Homo sapiens: one gene and its partner. The gene in region 2 interacts genetically with the main gene of each other region. Each region holds a gene or a part of one and is shown on either strand. Other genes may lie near its edges.

Region 1 (4,464 bases), about 120 Mb from region 2:
GGTAGGTGCACCCCTCCGGTGAATAATAACTTGCACCTACGTAACTTACTATGTGCTGGGCACTGTTCTCATCATCCTCATGACAATCCCACAAAGCGCTCTTGCCCCCCTGTTACAGATGAGGAAACTGAGGCACAGAATTCCCTCATCCATCTGTCTTTATGCTCAGGGTCACCAGAGTTAACCAGTTGAGTGGGGAGCCTCAAAATAGTGGGAAATCCAAGAGGCATTTATCTCTGCCATGGAATGCCATCCCTTCCCCAGGCTGTTAGGAAAAAGCCCTCATTCTGGGAGGCAGAGATGAGTCTGGGTCAGAGGTGTGTGGGCATTGCCTCTAGGGGTGCCCCCTGCCCTCTGGGGTGCAGGAAGTGGATCACAGGATACAAACTGAGAGAAGCCTTCCTTCCACCCCACTAACCCCATCCGGACATCCTGGTTTCCACCACTGGGGTCTTTCCTGGCCAGTGCAGGAGGGAGAGGAGACGGCTGTTTCCATCAGGCCCCTCACGTCTGCCCCTTTGGGATTGGGGAGCAGGCCTAGGGTGTCGTGTATGTGTCACTGTGGGCTGTTGCCTCTCTCCTTGACTGTGTGCCTGTGTACCTGGAGGTGACTATACATGTCCACACGTGTCTATGTATATGTCTGTGGCTGTGACCAGGAGGGGATCTCTGTGAGTGTGTGGGGTTGTGTCTGTGTCCTCGAGTGTCTGATCTGGTGGCTTGCCCTTGCTAGCAGCAGAGGATGACACTTCAGGGGTCATGAGCCACTGACCTGTCTGAAAGGCAAGTCTGGGGGTCACTGAGACCTATGCAAGGCCGTGGGTTTTTTACAGGCGTGACAAGGAGTGGTGAGGGGTGCCTGGGCAGAGCTCACCTGTAGATAGGGGATGACCTTGCAGAGGGCATGGCCGAACAGCCAGGACTCAGTGATGTCCACCAGCAGGCTGGCCGGCAGGCAGATAGCAGTCACCAGAACGTCAGCCAGGGACAGGTTGACAATGAAGTAGTTGGTGACTGTCCTCATGTGGTGGTTCCGCCACACGGCCAGGCAGACTGCAGGGTGCAGCGAGGTGAAGCTGGTGGCAGAGCCACACCCATCCTAGTTCTGCCTAATCAGCGAGCCCTCCTCCCACACAACCCCCTTCAATCCCCAGGGAAAGCCGGCAGCACTGCCGGGCAAGCCCTGGACCTACCCAGCGTGTTGCCCACCAGGGCCACGACGAACACAGCCACATAGGCTGCGATGAGGACCCACTCATACTGTTTTGGGTACAGATAATCGCGCCACAGATAGCGGAGAAACTCATCTTCATAGTCTGGAGGCACAGGGGACGGCTCTCTGCTGCCAGGGGGGACCCCCATCTGGGCCCCTGGGGTGGCTGAGGGCTCCATGAGCTCAGGAGCCGCTGCAGCAGAGGGGCATCCTAGGCTCTACAGAGGGAGAGGAGGGAGCTTGGGCCAGCCCTCAGCCCACTCCCTTCAGGGTGCCTGGAGGCTTGCACCCAGGTCTTTTCGGGTCTCAGCCTCAAACTTCCTGAAGGGAGGAAGGAAAGGAGGGAGTGGGAAAAGAGAGAAGGAAGGAAACATTAGGGATTGTGCCAGGCGCTTTGCGTATAAGTTCCCTCTTAATTCTCACAGTCATGAAATTGGTGGAGGAAGACAGACCTGGGTTGCATCCCAATTCCACACCAGTTGCCTTGGGTAGCTTACCTGGCCTCTTTCAGCCTTGGTTTCCCCATCTGTCTAATGGGGTGACAGCCCTACATACCTTACAGGACCACGATGAGGAGTAATGAGCTCCGATGCGTGCCAAGTGCTTCACCAAGAACCTGGTACGAGAAGGTAGTTTCGGGGACGTTTCCGGTTACCATTATTAGGGTACCCTGCTTTGCAGATGAGACCGAAGCTCAGAGAGATTGAGTCTCTTGCTCAAGGTCACAAAGCTCTTAAGCCAGGTCTGTTCGAACCCACCAAACACCGTAGATTTGGGAGGAGAAGCCATCCCGATTGCAAATATTTCTTGAGCCAGTTCAGAGGCTTTAACTTTGGGTTGGGAAAACGGGCCAAGGGAGGTGTTAGAGACCCAAGCCCCACCCGCCATACCTGCCAGACCCTCCGGTGGGCACTCGCGGACACGCACACATACAACACACACACAGTGGGGGTGGTGCGCGGAGGGACTGACGACCCCTTGCGAGCAAGGGGAGCATCCAGGCCCCCTAAGAGGCCCCTTTGGGTCCCCAGGGCCGCGACGCTCCCCGACGGCCGCCAGGAGCCGCTGTTCCGGCGCGCGGGTCGCTCTCCATTCATAAATCCAGCCAGCCCAGCTCCCCGCCCCTCCCCTCCTCCCGCACTCAGCCCCTCCTTCCCCCGGCTGGGCTAGGACGACCCCGGCCAGGTGCCGGAGGGTTGCGGATCCCTGGAGACCCCTGGGGAAGGGGAGGGGACGCCTTCATACCCCACTGAACGCCGGCAGGCCCGCTCCGTCCGCGGGACCTTCCTGCACCTCGGGGGCTGGCGGGGCTCCGGGAAGGCGCGGGGGAGCGAGGGCACTCGGAGCCTGCCTAGAGGAGAGCAGCGCTGGCCGAGGAGCCAGTCTCCCAGCACCCAGGTTACCCCCCGAGACTCTTGGCTCCTCCCATCCCTCGCCGCGGGTCCTTTGGAACCCCCATCCCAGGCCTGGGGGTCCCCCACACCCCGCACCTGTTGGCTCCGGGACCCGGGCGTTCTCGGCTGCTGGTCCCCGGACCTGGCACCGGGGACTTCGCCTTCCTGCGAGGAAGGCCGAGCCTCTAGGGGCCGGGACTGCAGGAGGGGGCCGGGGCAGCCCCCTCCCTAGGCTGCGCTGCCTCGGCTCGCGGGGCTCAGCACGATCCGCGGCAACTGCGCGGGCTGTGGCTCGGCGCGGGCTCCGCCGGGCTGCGCGCTGCGGGGAGGGAGGGCCGGCGGGAGGGGCAGGGCGGGGTGGGAGCCCCCAGACGGTCTTGGCTCCCTGTCTTCCAGCCCCGAGACCCGCAGGGCGGAGGGAGACGCTCGTTCCTTCTAGCCTCCCACTTCAAGCTTCCATCCCACCTCCATTCATGCGTCCATCCGTTCATTCATTCCATCCTCATTCATTCAACATTTATGCCCCTGGCCACCCCGCATTCTGGGCGCACTTAGTGTGTGCCGGCGGGCCTGGCAGCTTCAGAGGGCCACAGTGCAGAGGTGGAGCCCAGCCCCGCCTCTCCTTGCTGCCTCACCTAACTGAGGAGGAGGATGGCACAGGTGGGTCACAGGGGTGAGACAGAGAGGATGCCTGCACCGCCTCCAGCCTAGCTCCGGATGCTGCTGTAACAGCTAGCTCCCAACGATGCCAGAGAAGCCTGTTCTCCCATCTCCCAGCCCCCCATCCTATCTGCCCCCAGTTTCTCTTTTTGTTATACCTACTGTTCCCCCCAAAAATCAAGGACGCCGGTGGGGACAGAAGTGGGGGTTCGTTAATTCCACAAATAACGATTTATTAAGCTGTGTGCTAGGCAGTGAGTTCTAATAATACAGCTACCGTTTGGATAATGCATATGATGCCTGCTCTCATTTAATCTTCATATCAACCTGGTGAGGTGGTCGTTATTGTCCCCATTTTACAGATAAGGACACTGGATCCACATGGCGCAATGACTTGCCCAAGGTCGCACAGCAGAGGCAGAGCTGGGCTTTGAGCCTCTGCCCCTCTCAGGCCTCTAGCCTCTCTCACCAGACACAGTCTCCCTCCCCTGCAAAATCTCTCTGGCTGGTGGGGGAGGCAGGTGCACACCCAGGCAATTAACCTGTGGTGTGAGGAGGGTGTGAGGGCCCTGGGGGCTGTGGGGCACAGGAGGACAGACCGACTCAGCCAGGGCATGAGAACAGGCTTCCTGGAGCAGGGACATCTCCATGGAGACCTGAAGAATAAGAAGGTAGCCTGCAAGGGGGATTGTGGTATTCGAGGAGAGGCATTCAAGGTCAGGAAACAGCAGGTGCAAAGGTTTGAAGGTTGGGGATTCTGGAAATCACAGGTAGGTGAAGGGTGACTGCCTGAGCATCATGCAGTCACCTTGGCCATCCCCTAGCTCAGCATAGGACATTCCTAACATGTCACCCTCTGAAACTCACACTGTTTCCCTCCTGGGAGGTGACTCCTGGGATGCAACCACCATCTTTCCCATTGCAGCCAAAGCCCTTTTCAAAGGCTCTGAAGATGCGCCGTTAGGCATAGGAGGTGTGGGAGAGGAACTGGAGCAGCATAAGGGAGGGGGCCAGTGACCTTAACCTCTGCAGAACAGGAGGATGGACTGAAGCTAAACCCAAGGCAGAACTTTGTCCTTGGGCAGGTATGGCATCTGCATGGTGTGTGATGTCTTGTCTTCCCTAGGTGCTGGCCGAGGTAGGAGAATGAGTGAAGGGACTCAGAAGAGGGGCTGCTGTGTGTGTGTGTGTGTGTGT
Region 2 (3,212 bases):
GGCACCACTGCACTCCAGCCTGGGCGAAGGAGCGAGACTCCGTCTCAAAAAAAAAAAAAAAAAAAGAGATTCTCCTGCCTCAGTCTCCTGAGTAGCTGGGATTACAGGCGCGTGCCACCATACCCAGCTAATTTTTGTATTTTTAGTAGAGACTGGGTTTCACCATGTTGGCCAGGCTGGTTTTGAACTCTTGACCTCAGGTGATCCATCCACCTCAGCCTCCCAAAGTGCTGGGATTACAGGCATGAGCCCCTGTGCCCGGCCAATAATAATAATTCTTAAGGATGTAAATGGGTCCTTAAACCAGTTTCAGCACTGCTGGGCAATTCATAGGCTGTTACTACTCTCAGAGCCTGCATTCCCAGCTTAAGAATCGAGAGTCTTTTTTTTTTACTTTTCCTTCTAGACCCTTGTAGAACAAGAAGTGAGTCTTATTTGAAGTAGAGAGTGGAGAACTGACTGTTTTCTGGCAACCCTCTCTCCCTCAAGAAGAGACACTGTCACTGGAATAAAGATTTTAATTGTCTCTGCTCATGGTAGAAGCAAGGCATACAGGCCCCCAACCCTTCTGCGCCACCCCTCTTCTCCCCTGTGCACTGTGTCTACTGCTGGGTGGAGGGGGTCGGGGGAGCAGGTATTGTGGGCCAGCCCCAGATGTGGGCTCCCCTGCCCTCTCTTCACCTAGTCTCTTTTCATGTTCCCCTTCAGGTGACTCTTTCTCCTCCCAGTAAGTCACAGGGTAGCAAGGCTGAGGGAGGAGAGCATGGGGAGGGGAGGGGATCAGGAATCCACAGCCCAGCCCGGCCTGAGTCCAGGTGGAGAGCAGGTGCGTGTGCCTGTGTGAGTGTCCCTGTGCATGGCCGTGGGCTTGGCTCAGCCTGTAAGCTCTGAGATCCCCCCATGCCAGTCCCCTCTCAGAGGTCCTATCTGGTGTCTTCACTGGGGTCAGCACACCTGAGCTATTCAAATTACTTCCATCCTTTGGCGATGGGGCTGCTGTGGGTGAGGCTGAGGCCTGGCACCTCTGTTGCTTCTGGCACAGGGTAGGGAGGTGTGGAGGGATAGGAGAGGAGGCAGGTCAGCCTCGGGTGCTACTCCCCCTCTCCCCAAGGAGCCAGTAGGTCCGAACCTTGCCTTTGCCCTGGAGGGAAAAAAGAGGATGGGCTGGGGAGTGGCACATGCCCTTTCCCCAGTCAGATGAGAGCCTTAGGGATGGGAGTGGCATTGGCTGCTTGAGAAGGGTAACTCCCTCTAGGACCCCAAAAGGTGGGGAGGGCAGAGGCTTCTCCCTCTACCTTCATTTCTACATCCCCTCGAAGCTCCAGCTCGAAACCACCAAACTCCTCCAGGACAGCCTTGGTCTCAGAAGACAAGTGGATCTTCAGGGCTGGGTAGGACAGGGGAGAAGGGAAGGTGAGCAATGTGAGAGAGGAGAGCAGGAAAGTAGAGGCAAAAGAGACCAGGGACTGTGGGGGTGGACAGGTGGACAGGTACCCTCTCTCCCTCTTTTGGGCCAGGAAGCCCTCTAGCTCAGAGGGGCCCCACCCCCTGAATGTAGTGCGTGACCACATTAGCCTCTCATTTAGAACTCTGGAGCTGTGTAATCCAATACAGTAGCCACTAATCACATGTGCCTGTTTCAACTTAAATTAATTTAAACTAAATACAGTTAAAAATTCAGGCTGGGTGCTGTGGCTCACACCTGTAATCCCAGCACTTTGGGAGGCTGAGGCAGGAGGATCACTTGAGGCCAGGAGTTCGAGACCATCCTGGCCAATATGGCGAAACCCCGTCTCTACTAAAAATACAAAAATTAGCTGTGTGTGGTGGCACTCACCTGTAATTCCAGCTACTTGGGAGGCTGAGGCAGGAGAATCGCTTGAACCTGGGAGGCGGAGGTTGCAGTGAGCCGAGATTGCACCACTGCACTCCATCCAGGCTGGGCGACAGAGCGAAACTCTGTCTCCAAAAAAAAAAAAAAAAATCAGGGCCTCAGTTGCACCCGTCACATTTCCAGTGATAAGTAGCCATATGTGCCTAGAGGCTACTGTATTGGACAGCACAGAATACAGAACATTTTCATGACTATGGAACATCCTGTTGGACAGCACTCTCTGGAGTGTCACCCGGCTCTACACAGCATGGTGGTTAGGAGCTGGCACTTTGGATCCTGCACTGCCTCAGTATGAACCTCAGCTTGGATACTTGCTTAGGTATGTAAAATAAATTCTCTCTGCTTCATTTTCCTAATCTGTAAAATGCTGATAGTGTCAGTACCCATCTCAAAACCTTGTTGTGAGGATTAAATTTAACATCCATAAAGTATTCAAACGGAATGTGCTACCTAGGAAGCACTATGTAAATTGTTGCTTTCATGATTTCATGCTATACCCTCATTTTGTGGCCGAGGAACTGAGGCCCAGGGTGATCTGCCCAAGTGGCTGAGGAGGTCAGTGATGGAGTGGGGCCCAATATTGCCACACCCTCTCTTTGACCACTGTCTGAACTCATGTCCCTACTTCTGGGGTTTGCATCAATCACAGTGGCCTTGTTGTGTTTAACAGTTTCTTTCTTTTCTTTTCTTTCTTTCTCTCTTTTTTTTTTTTGAGACAGAGTCTCGCTCTGTTGCCCAGGGGTGCAGTCTCGGCTCACTGCAACATCCACCTCCTGGGTTCAAGTGATTTTCATGTCTCAGCCTCCTGAGTAGCTGGGATTACGGGCACGTGCCACCACGCCCAGCTAATTTTTTGTATTTTTAGTAGAGACAGGAGGTTCACCATGTTGGCCAGGCTAGTCTCCAACTCCTGGCCTCAAGTGATCTGCCCACCTCGGCCTCCCAAAGTGCTGGGATTACAAGCACCCCCAGCGCCCAGAATGTTGAACAATTTCTGGGAATGTGCTCCTTGAGGACTGGACCCTCAACAAGGGGCTGTACTCTGACAGCCCCCAAAATAGTGCCCAGGGAATATTTGCCGAACTAGATCCCTCTGGGCTCCCAGGACTGGCTCCCAAGCAGCCTTTCTTTCACCATAAGGTTTAGATGGGGTCCACATGAATTTCTCAGCTAACTCTGGATCTGGGCCATGTTACTATCCCAGGGCCTGGCACTCAGTAGTCACTCAATAAATGTTTACTGCATTGAATTGTGTCGAATACAGCAGAAGGATAGAAGATAAACAGGAGGCAAGAGCAAGGGGCGGGTAGGAGTAAGA

What was found.
Region 1: changes in NPR1 (region 2) and HCRTR1 together harm fitness more than expected from each alone (negative genetic interaction), as found in Homo sapiens cells (one large-scale study listed by BioGRID).

Annotation. Positions count from the first base shown.
Region 1 is NC_000001.11:31,616,121-31,620,584, reverse strand, and holds the start of HCRTR1 (orexin/Hypocretin receptor type 1), read right to left. Parts: upstream 2,897-4,464; 5' UTR 2,704-2,896; intron 2,561-2,703; exon of another isoform or gene 2,459-2,560; intron 2,117-2,458; exon of another isoform or gene 1,830-2,116; 5' UTR 1,769-1,829; exon of another isoform or gene 1,535-1,768; 5' UTR 1,393-1,534; coding exon 1,194-1,392; intron 1,054-1,193; coding exon 875-1,053; intron 1-874. UniProt on the Homo sapiens protein: Moderately selective excitatory receptor for orexin-A and, with a lower affinity, for orexin-B neuropeptide. Triggers an increase in cytoplasmic Ca(2+) levels in response to orexin-A binding.
Region 2 is NC_000001.11:153,691,281-153,694,492, reverse strand, and holds the end of NPR1 (atrial natriuretic peptide receptor 1 precursor), read right to left. Parts: intron 1,388-3,212; coding exon 1,296-1,387; intron 1,142-1,295; coding exon 1,079-1,141; 3' UTR 501-1,078; downstream 1-500. UniProt on the Homo sapiens protein: Receptor for the atrial natriuretic peptide NPPA/ANP and the brain natriuretic peptide NPPB/BNP which are potent vasoactive hormones playing a key role in cardiovascular homeostasis.